Linked DNA regions of Homo sapiens. The protein of the gene in region 2 purifies or fractionates together with the protein of the main gene of each other region. This does not show direct contact. Each region holds a gene or a part of one and is shown on either strand. Other genes may lie near its edges.

The links. The genes of interacting proteins can lie anywhere in the genome.
Region 1: the proteins of AMY2A (region 2) and ANKRD9 purify together in Homo sapiens (affinity purification with mass spectrometry; one large-scale study listed by BioGRID and IntAct). This does not show direct contact.
Region 3: the proteins of AMY2A (region 2) and RIOK2 purify together in Homo sapiens (affinity purification with mass spectrometry; one large-scale study listed by BioGRID and IntAct). This does not show direct contact.

What each region holds. Positions count from the first base shown.
Region 1 is NC_000014.9:102,506,977-102,511,199, forward strand, and holds the start of ANKRD9 (ankyrin repeat domain-containing protein 9), read right to left. Parts: upstream 2,801-4,223; 5' UTR 2,553-2,800; intron 1,877-2,552; exon of another isoform or gene 1,871-1,876; 5' UTR 1,665-1,870; intron 1,574-1,664; 5' UTR 1,499-1,573; intron 967-1,498; 5' UTR 914-966; coding exon 1-913.
Region 2 is NC_000001.11:103,615,933-103,620,226, reverse strand, and holds the start of AMY2A (pancreatic alpha-amylase precursor), read right to left. Parts: upstream 2,801-4,294; 5' UTR 2,787-2,800; coding exon 2,619-2,786; intron 2,274-2,618; coding exon 2,127-2,273; intron 1,317-2,126; coding exon 1,119-1,316; intron 674-1,118; coding exon 443-673; intron 1-442.
Region 3 is NC_000005.10:97,163,308-97,166,247, forward strand, and holds part of RIOK2 (serine/threonine-protein kinase RIO2), read right to left. Parts: intron 1,841-2,940; coding exon 1,744-1,840; intron 1-1,743. UniProt on the Homo sapiens protein: Serine/threonine-protein kinase involved in the final steps of cytoplasmic maturation of the 40S ribosomal subunit. Involved in export of the 40S pre-ribosome particles (pre-40S) from the nucleus to the cytoplasm.

The DNA of each region.
Region 1 (4,223 bases), on a different chromosome or scaffold from region 2:
GCAGCGGCAGCTCGTCCAGGGCCTCGGGGAAGCGGCCTGGAGAGATGGCGGTGACCAGCACCTGCATGGCGCGCGCGAAGAGCGAGGGCGGCGCCAGGCCCGCCAGCCACTGGAACTTGTCCTCACCCAGCAGCCGCTGCCAGCGCGGCCGGTCGCCCAGCAGCTCCTGGCGGGCCGAGCCGGCGGCACCCACGGGGGTGTACAGCGCCAGGAGGTCCAGCAGCAGCAGGCGGCGCTGGCGCGGCTCCCCGGGAGCTGAGGCGGGGGCTCCGGCGGCGGAGGGAGTGGCCCCGGCGTCGCGGCCCAGCTGGCGCAGCAGCAGCTCGAGAGGCGTGAGGCCGCCGCCGTCCCGCAGACCGGGCGAGGCGCCGTGGCCCAGCAGCAGGAAGAGGCACTCGGGGCGCGCCAGCTCACAGGCCACGTGCAGCGACGTGCCACCGCCCTCCACGCGGCTGCAGCCACGCCGGTCCAGCACGCGCGCCCGCTCCTCGGCCGGGAAGTCGCGCAAGGTGCGCAGGATGCGGCGCAGAATGCCCACGCGGTTGTAGCGCACTGCCAGCGCCACGTGCGGCCCGGGAGCCGCGCAGCAGCGGAAGCCGGCACTGGGCGGTGCGAGCGCGCGCCGCGGGAACGTGGCCAGCAGGTAATGCGCGTACGCTTGGTGGTCGTGCACGAGCGCGTAGAGCAGCGCCTCAGAGGGCGAGTAGGCGGCGGCGCGCCCGCGCTCGTCCCAGTGGAAGGCCTCGCTGGCGCGCATATCCTCCAGCAGCCACACGGGTAGCAGGTCGCGCACCGCCTGGTAGAAGGCGAACGACGACTTGCGGCACTGCTTCTGCGCTCGCGAGCGCGCCGCGCCCGAGGCCTCGGGCCCGCCGTCCGCGCCACCCCCAGGCCGCCGCGCGTCCCACGGCATGCTGGCGGCGGGGCGTTCCTGGGCCTCAAGGCATGGATCCCGCGAAGGCACACCTGCGGGGAAAGGAAGAGGCCACGGTGAGGCGCGGGGAAACTGGGGAGGCCCGGGGACTCCCCTCTGCCCCTCACACAGCCCCTCCGGTCCTGGCCCACCAGGCCTGTACCTACCTCCAGCCTCGGCCAGGCCCTTCCAGTCACCCTACAGCTCCATCTCTCCGACGCCCAGAACCACCGCCTCCATCCTTGATCTAGCTGTACCTGTTCTCCCTCCTTGAAACTGACTTGCTCTCTGGCACCTCTGCTGGAAATGCCCTTGCTGCCCATGCCCTCAAATCTCCCCTCCCCTCTCCAACCCAGGGACCCACTGGAAGAGCTTCTGTTCCCACCTAAGCCAGGTTCATACGACCCCAAATAAAGAAAAGGCCAGGGAGGGGATGAGAAAGCTTGGGCCCACATCTCAAGCTGAGGCAAATCCACTCTCCAGCCCAAGCGCAACCCTGACCCTGATCTCCGACCCCAGACCACTTGGAGGCCCCTGGAGCCTCTTCCTGGGCTGTTCAGAGGCATGATCCAGACTCAGACCTACCTGGTTCCTGCACCGCGATCACCTAGTTCCGGGGATGTGGGTATATCACAGTCCCTGGCCGAGCCTCAGCTTTATCTGTAAGAAAGGGGAGGGGTGGACGACGGCTGTGCGGGCGGGGTGAGCCTGGGGCGTGGCACCAGCCCTCTATCCAAACATGTTTGCTTACACGTTAGCTCCTGGGAGGAGATAGGAGGGTGAAAACAACCTGGAGACCGGTGTGCACCGCACTGCACAGTCTGCCATCCTCTTCAGGTCCCATACCTCTCTTGATCTCCCCGACTACTAGATGAAGCGGGTACTGCCATCCCACTTTCCAGCAGGGCACAAGCTTCTCCAATTCTCCAAGGTCAGCAAGCCACGGCAGAGCCAGGCCTAGAACTCAGGTCCCCTGCGTCTCAGTTTGGGCTCATTCCAGAATTGGTGGGGACCCCCAACCCACAGGCAATCGAGCTTAGGCCCTGACCCTGCCCTCTGAGTCCCCAGCCCCGACCTGAGCCTAGGCGTCTGACCTCTGGCTCCGTCCCAACCTCCCTACTGCCTTCTTTCAAGGGTAAGCCCTTGGTCACAAGGGGCCTGGGACAGAAGGCAGGCCGCGTCCACACACACTGACTGGGTCACTATCACTGGCAGTAACTGAGTTAAAGAGAGCGGCGCGGTGCGGGTAGGCTGTGGCCCGTGGGCAACACCGTGACTGGAGCCCCTTCCCCAAGCCTGGGCCTCCGGGCCCCAGATATGCCCTGTGCCGGCACGCGTGGGGCGCCGGGCGGGTTACGTAAAGTTCGGCCTCCCCACGTCACCGGGCAGAGTCACGGCCGCGGCTCGTGAATAAGGGGGTTGGGCCATCGAAGGCAGCGCCGCGCCCGGGGCCACCCGCCACCTCCTACCCGTCCCCTCCCGGCCTGCACGGCCAGACGTCGGGCGGCGGAGGGTCGCGGGGCCGAGCGGGGCGTCCGCGCGCAGGTGGCCGGCGCAGCGAGGGCTGCACCTGCGTGCGCGTGTGCCGGAGGAGGAGGGGGCGGCGGCCGCGGGCGCGGCGCGGGGGACGGGGACTCACCATGGGGGGCGCGGGGGCCACAGGCCGGGCGTCCCCGCCCCTGCCGCGGACCGGAGCGCGCGCTGTCCCCCGCGGGCGAGCGGGCAAAGGTCCCACGACGGACGCACGGGAGGGAGCCACCGCCGCCCGCGCCCGCCGCAGCCGCGCTCTGAGCCGCCGCGGCCGGATCGCAGGGCGGCGGTGCCGTCGCCGGCGGCGGGCGGCGGGCGGCGGGCGGCGGGCGGCGCAGTGCGGCCCCGGCCAGGCAGGACAGCGGGACCGTCCGCCGCCGCCATTGGCCCGCGCCGCCGGCCCCCGCCACCACCCATTGGCCGCCGCGCTGCACCATTGTTACGTCACTGGCCGGCGGGCGGGGCGCACCGCTGGACCCGCGGAAAACTTCGGAGAAACTTGAGGGAGCGCCGGCGGGGAGAACGGAGAGGAGGGGCGGGGCCGTGGCGAAAGGGGCGGGGCGTTGATGGGCGGGGGCGGGGCTCCCGGAACCCGAGCTGCGGGCGAAGAAAGGCTCCGAGCTCCGAGCTGCCCTAGCCCGGGAGGGCGCCGCTGCTCTGCGAACTCGGGCGCGCGCGTAGGTGGCCCGCCCTCCGCCGTGCGTGACTTTCCTCGTCGCGTCCAGCTCCCCTTTTCTTTGACCTTACGTGACCTTGGGAAAAACCTCCAGGCTGCTACCCCATCTGCACATGGGAGGGCCGGGGGTAGGAGCCGCGACCCCTAAGGGCTCCACCGCCTTCTGCCCGGCCAGGGTCGTGCCTGGCGCGCCCCCGCTCCAGCTGACCCGCGCAAGGGAGGGAGGGGCGGACGGATGGGGACAGCTGTTTAGGAGCGCGCACTGCGCCCATCTCGGCCTCAACACTCATGTTTCCACTTCGTTTCACGACCACCAGCCACAGTGGACACGATGATCCCCAGTTCACCCGCCAGCAAATCAGGGCTCAGAGAGGTGGCCTCAAAGAGAGGAGCGGCCAGGAGGGAAGCCGGGGGTTTGCCCTGCGGTTCTTCCCACATCTGGGCGGGATAGATTCGATTGGGCCTCGGCCACCCCCACCGTCTCCGTCGGGGGTTCCAAGGTTTGGGGTCATGACCTAGGGGGCTTAGGAGCCTGGGTCCATCTCAACTAATTTATGGCCTCACTCGCCCCCAGCGGCTGGGAATTCTAGGCCCATTTTACAGATGTGGACGCAGATCTGGAGAGGGGCAATGACTGCTCAACCCCCCACCCATCCTCCCAGACACGACCTTCCACCTGGAATCCCCCCACACACGTTCTCAGAGGCCAGGCAGCCGGGGTCTCATGGTGAAATCCCCACATTCCATGCAGGGGCTCTTTCTGGTTCCTTCCCTAGAATGCTGTCCCTGCCCTTCCAGTACTATCTCACCAGGGAGACCCTCCCACTCCCCCACTCCGCTCCAACCAAGCAAGGCCTCTGCCTCGCCCCGGTGGGAGGGGCCTCGTCCAGAGGGCACGCCCCTGCACACACAATCAGCCCTGTCCTGGCTTCTCTGTGTGCCCCAGCCAGTCAGTCTGGGTGGAAGTCTTACCTGGGCCCTCTCAACAGACCTAGGCAGGCCTCTGTCCCCAGCCCAACGAGCTCAATCCCTTAAGCACACACGCCACAGAGCAGTCCTGAGAGGCCAGGTGGACAGTACCATGAGGCAGACAAAGCTGTGAGG
Region 2 (4,294 bases):
TCAACAGGTAATATTCTTATATTCTTTTATTTGATAAAGTATAGGCTACAATATTGAAAGAAGCATAATGTCAAAGATACCTGTTGTCCTGTGAAAATACTTACCTAATTTTTAGTCTTCTACATCAATGATAATAATAAGAGCTCACACTAATAAAACATTTAGTATCGACTGAAATTCCTTGATAAATATTAACTTGTTTCATTATCCAAAGAAAGTAAAGACATAACTATTATCAGTATCCTACATTCTGTGTACCTCCATAAAACATGTTGTGATAAAGAATTAGATATGCTGTATGTGAAGAAGAGGAGGTTAAAGAACACTGTTTTATGTAAATGTCTCATTCCTTATCCTACAGAAATTGCATTTTTAATTAAATCTTCCATTAATTTTCTAACGAATAAGATGATATTTTATAGGCATATAAGTATTGATGTACCTCCTGGTAAATGAAAGGTTTACTTCCTGCAGGGAACCAGTTACTGTTTAGATTATGCAGTTTGTCCAAAATTGCCTTTATGTCTCCAGGCCACATGTGCTTGGAAGCATCAAGTCTGAACCCTGCAACACCAATGTCAATGAGATGGTTCATATATTCGGCAATCTTAGAACGCACGTAATCCTTCTCCAGTGCAAGATCAAGAAGACCAGTCAGACGACAATCTCTGACCTGTTGAGGTAAAAATGTTATGATTGATTCATAAAACCTCATTTTTCTCCTGAGAATCCATTGGATTATTCATTTATTCCATGATTCCTCAAGAGATATTCTATAGTGACTTCCTTGCATTGGGCACTGGGGATGCTCACATTCTACTACAGATGTATCTTTGAAATATTTTCTAATAGAAAATAGAGAATTTAGGAAATAAAGTCGATGAGATTTTTAATTGGGAACTTCTTAGAAGTGGGCAAATGTGTATTGATTAAAAATCTTAAATCAATATTTGAAAGTTCTTAAATATGGATTTGAGTTTCTTAAAGTAGTCAAACTTGTTAACTTCTGTCCCTAAGAGATCTAAATTCCTATTTTAAATGAAATTCAATTAGCTACATGTCTACAAGAAAAGGCATATATTACTCTTTTATTCAGATCACTCTCGTAAAAAAATTACCTGAGTAGCATCATTGTAGTTCTCGATATCTCCACTTCCAGTTTTACATTTACCATCATTGAAATCCCATCCAGAATATGGGACTGCTGGAAAGTCCCTACTTCCAGGGTTGAAGTAACTTCCACAGGTACTGCTTGTTCCTGCACTCACAGCGTTACCACACATATGATTAATTACAGCATCCACATAAATACGAACCTAGAAAACAAAGTTTCTACTTCAGTGTGACTTACAGAGAGGTAGAAATTTAAAGCATTATTGATGCAAGTTTATAGTATGTTAATAAAACTCCAAAATATTTCATGATATCTTATAATTATTTTCCTACAAGATCAAAAATCAACTGTGAAAGGAAAGTAATGTGAACTAAACACCTACATGCCTTCTAGACACTTGGTCAAATATTTATAGGAATGATAAATTGAGAGACCAGAAACTACCATAAATAGGAGGAAATGCAAAAAGCCCACTTTGGGAAGACAAAACTCAGATGAGAGTGGAAAGGTTATTGTTTTGGAAATTTCAGTGGGTCACCAGGAGAAAGCCTGTACTCTCTATGAAGCTTTTGAAGACAAACAAGGTAGCTATTAATCTCAATTTATGCTCCTCATTAAATAGAGAAGCTAGCTATTCACCATGAAAAACCCAAGAATTACGGATGGAGACACAAGTCACCTAAAAATGATAGCAAACATTGTAACTGGAATTATACTTCCTAACCAGTAAATTGTTTCCGGGAAATACGAACAGTTATAAGGGTTAAAATTTGATGTTTTGCTTTAGAAGCAAATTCTGATTTAAACTTTAACTTACCTCTTTAGTAGATAGCACACACACAAATATTCACAAAAGTTGAACATAAATAAACAGTTAATTTTGAGTTTTAAATTATGAAGTAAAATTAAAAAAATAAAATACGGAAAATTTTCTGCTGAAAAGGAGCAAGAAAGAAGAGAGAGAAACCATTTTCCTGTCTGTTATTTTTAAAGGAAACTAGAATTCACTTACCCCAACATTGTTACATCTAGTCACCATGTTTCTAAATTCATCTTCATTTCCAGATCTTGTGCATAATTTATAGCTAACTGGTTGGTATCTTTCCCACCAAGGTCTGAAAGGGTTGTAAATTGCAACATTTTCATTTGGTGGAGAGACCTACAAATTAAACAGTCTTCATAAGTACCAAATTCTGTCTTACTGTGTATCATTGAATGTTCTAGAAACTAATCAATAGTATAAAAGATTCTTGAATCTTGGTATAGGCAGCTATCTCTTGAAAATATTAACAGCACATTGGAGGGCTCTTGGTGAAGAAAGATTATCTCAGAAACAAAATATAAAGTTGCCAAGAATACTACATAGATTTTCCCTCAGAAATCTCTTTTACTTAGAATACTTACCTGTGAAGTAAAATGTTGCCCAAGCTTCACAGATAAGATCAGAATACTATTTCCTACAAGCACAGTGAATTCCGCAATTGATACTATGAATCATACCCACCTGAACCCCTCCAAATCCCTTCGGAGCTAAATATCGCTCACATTCAAGAGCAATATCAACCCATCGCCATTCAAACAGATGAACAATAGATGTCCGTCCTTGTTGTGTATTTGGGGAATACTGAGCCCAGCAGAACCCAATGGTGAAAAGCAACAGAAAGAACTTCATTTTGCTTTGAAGTTGTCAGTGTCCTTTCCAGAAACTATTTATATTCCTGTAAGAAGCACATTTTACAAAGTAAATATTAGCATGAATAAATACTTGAGGGCAAACTGTTTATTCATAATCTGAAAAGGATTATCAATAATAATCCTAACAGGTAAAGAACATCAAAAAGTCTCTCATGGAAATCATCTAAATGACCTTTTAGATATTAATGTTTTTCTTAGGTTCTGGCAGCACTTTTATTTTTCCTTAAACAGTGACCTGTTGCTGGGGCCTAATGTTCTCACATAACAGTAGAAAACCAAAATTTGTTGTCATCTCTTTAAAGATCCAGAATGGCATACAAAAAAACTTTACATAAATTAAAAGGATGAATACTTTTACAGGTATAAATGCGAACCCCTTCCAACTCAAGGTAAGTAACAGCCCACGGTGCTCTGGTAGATAACGTAAGCTAAGAAAGGAAACTGGGTCCTATGGCTTGGACTTTCCAACCCTGACAGACTGACAGGACAGAAACAAGTGGTCCAGAAGCCCTTACCAGCCTCTAGACAAATCCCAGAACACTCAGCCCTGACACATTAATACCCTGTACAGATCAGAGACTGCTGGCCGCACAGACTCACCGAGCCAGACTGGTCTTCCACAAGCATGTTTTTAGCCATGAAGTGACCAAGCCACGTGTAGTAAAGACTGAAATCAAAGATATGTACAGATACCAAGGGCAACAGTTAACTTGAATACAAGGTCAAAATCAGCAACACATTCTACAATCCAGTGCTGATATTGAGAGGAGACAAAGACCCTCTCCTTGTTTTATATTGTTTTCTATTCAGTAAAAACAACCAGGAAGTACAACCAAAGACATGCAGCCCAGCGCCAGGCCTGAAACCAGGCCTGGGCCTGATTGGCCTAAACCCAGTAGCTAAAAATCAACTTATGATTTAGAAGCTGATATTATTCACAGATTCCAGACATTGTATAAAAGAACTCTGTGAAACTCCCTGCCCTGTTCTGTTTCTCCCTGACCAGCAGTGAATGTAGTCCTTGTCACGTATCCCTTGCTTGCTCAAATCAATCACGACCCTTTCATGTGAAATCTTTAGTGTTGTGAGCCCTTAAAAAGGACAGAAATTGTGCACTCCGGGAGCTCAGATTTTGAGACAGTAGCTGGCCGATGCTCCCAGCTGAATAAAGCCCTTCCTTCTACAACTCAGTGTCTGAGAGGTTTTGTCTGAGGCTCGTCCTGCTACAATGTCAGATACAAGCTTCAAGGACAACTTCTTTCCAAAGGCTTATTCCAGTTTGGTGCGGCTAGCATGTGGTGTATTTTTTAATTTACCTGACCAAATGCACAAAGGGAGAACACATTCTTTTTTTAATCGTCTATATAGAGTCAGAAGTTGAGTCTTTTAAAGGATTGAAATAAAACAGAATATTCTAACTGGACTAAGATCATACGGTATGCGCCTTATTAATATGAACATTTATTTCCAAATATTTTGTTTTTA
Region 3 (2,940 bases), on a different chromosome or scaffold from region 2:
TGACACCATGAATTTTAAGATTCCAAACACTGACAGTACTATATAGAAACTGTTATATAGGAGAAATTAAATTCCAAACAGAAATACAGATTATATAGCAAAAAATATAGTGTATAGGCAGAATTTTTAAAAAATTACCATAGTGCCACCTAGTGTCCATCATGAAAACTGATGGAAAAAACAAGATGAAACTGCTTGTTCCTCTGCTTTTTAGGTTAAAAGTAGGCTTTTAGAGTAGATTTTGTATAGAAAATTATTTTTGAAAGCATTCAGTATTGCTGAATATATCCAAGAATGCCTTCACAGTTTCAGCTGTAGAATTGACCTGATGGTAGCAATCACCCATGGAAAAGTCTTCATATGTCTTTTGATCATAAATTCAAGTTACTTATCAGTTAAGATACACTGTGCAAGTCACATGACTTACAAGATGAATAAGAAATGTGAAATACTCAGTTCACAATGACCTTTTCTTTCTCTGAAGCACTACAGTCTGTTATTTAATAACTGTATATAACCTTGTATCATTCAACTTTTCTCCTAAAAAAGAAGATAGCTGCAAAACTCTGCAAAGCCAGGAACAAGGGTCTTCTTTTTTTTTTTGAGACAGGGTCTTGCTGTGTTGCCCAGGTTGGAGTGCAGTGGCAGGAACACAGTTCACGGTGGCTGCAACCTCCTGGGCTTGAGTGATCTTTCTGCCTCAGTCTCCTGAGTAGCTGGGAATACAGGTGTATACCACTACACCTGGCTAACTTTTAAATTTTTTGTAGACAGGGGTCTTGCTATGTTGCCCAGGCTGGCCTGAAACTCTTGGGCTCAAGCGATCCTTCCACCTTGGCCCCCAAAGTGCTGGGATCACAGGTCTGAGCCACTATGCCCGGCCAAATTTGTACTTATATCCAAGTACAAATGGCTGGGCGCAGTGGCTCACGCCTGAAATCCCAGCACTTTGGGAGGCTGAGGTGGGTGGATCACCTGAGGTCAGGAGTTCGAGACCAGCCTGGCCAACATGGTGAAACCTTGTCTCTACTAAAAATACAAAAATTAGCCAGCCATGGTGGTAGGCGCCTGTAATCCAAGCTACTCGGGAAGCTGAGGCAGGAGAATTGCTTGAACCCAGGAGGCGGAGGTTGCAGTGGGCTGAGATCATGCCACTGCACTCTAGCCTGGATGACCTCCGGCCTGGATGACAAGAGCAAAACTCCATCTCAAAAAAAAAACAAAAACAAAAACAAACAACAACAACAAAATTTTATACCATTAACATGTACGTCCAAGTGTCTGAGGCTTACACACCTTATAATCCTCACAGTGACCAAGCTCATTAATCTTCAGCTCATATGAAGAATGACTCATCCACCTCAAACCTGATCAATTTATCAAGTGACCTACATTAATTTTTTGAAACTCATCAGTTTGTATTCTAAGAAAAAATTACTTGAAATTTAGTCAACAGGCTGCCTAAAATCAGGACAATTGAAAAAGAAGGTGTTTTGAGTTTTACCAACAAAAAGTCATTTGGCCTTCATTTTACACATAATGGTGGCAGGACACAACTCTACCACATCCTTTGAGCAACATTCATTTATTAAAATCAAAGAAAGTACTGGTTTCAAGACAAGTCAAAAAGCAATCAACAGAAGTCTGTACCTGAAAGGCATACATTATTGTTTAATGAGACAAGGCAATCAGATCACAGTAGTGATGTAATAAACATTCAGTACATGTTGAATGACTACTTACTGGAGGAATTGTTGAACAGCTTACAGCACTGCCTGAAGAAGTGATACTCAGAGTTCTTGTTCTATACTGATTCATAGCTCCCACATTTTCTTCATCTCTAAAATTAAAAAACCCACAATTTATCTAGTTAATTTGTATAATGTAATGAATCCCATTTGATTAATTTATATTATTTTTTGCATGCAGCAAAACTGAAGACATAAAATACTTCAGAAAGATCATTATATTTTAAAATTTCTGTGAAGATAAAACTACCTACTGTTAAGTTCTATACATTAACAATTTTCATTTTCCAGCATTTTGTTAGTCACTATCAAAATTTAAAAACAGTAGAATGCTTAAGCCATTGAAATTTATCACCTCCCCACAATTCATCTTCCCTTTTCTAATAATCCTCTCCTCTTCTTTCACTGAACTATATAAATCTGTCTCTCCCTATCTAAATTTTTGAGACTCTTTCCACCTTCACAAACAGAAGATATAATGGAAACAGACAGTACTCATTATAGTCAGCTCCACTAGGGTAGGAAAATCTGCAACCTAGAGACTAATGTTTTTCACATGGCTCAAAGTTTCAATATATGCAATGTATAAAAACTCGGACGATATTAACTCCTAACAGTTAATATTTTTCAGCAACATCTGCTGTTCTGCTTTTACTTTGAATGGAAGTTTTGCCCAGCATGTATCCAGAGTGGGAACAAAATTATTGTTCCCATTCTGAGTTTAAAAGACCATTTAATCCTATATAGATTTTCTTCTATCACTGTGATGGTTAATTTTATATGTTAACTTGACTGGGCCTCAGGGTGCCATATATTTGGTTAAACATTAACTTGGGTGTGTCTTTGAGGGCGTTTCTGAATCAATAAACTGAGTATAGCAGATTGCCCTCCCCAGTGTGGGTGGACCTCATCCAATCCATTGAAGGCCTGATGAGAACAAAAAGGCAAAGTAAGAGAGAACTGTCTTTGAACTGGGACATGGGTCCTCTCCTTTCTTTGGATGTGGACTGGAACTTATGCTATTGTCTCTTCTGGTTCTTAGCTCTTTGGATTTGGACTGGAACTGTACCATGGGCTCTCCTTGGTCTCTAGCTTGTTGACTACAGATCCTGGGACTTCTCAGCCTCCATAACCCCATGGGCTAATTCCTTAAAATAAATCTCCTATTTATTCTGTTTCTTTGAAGAATCCA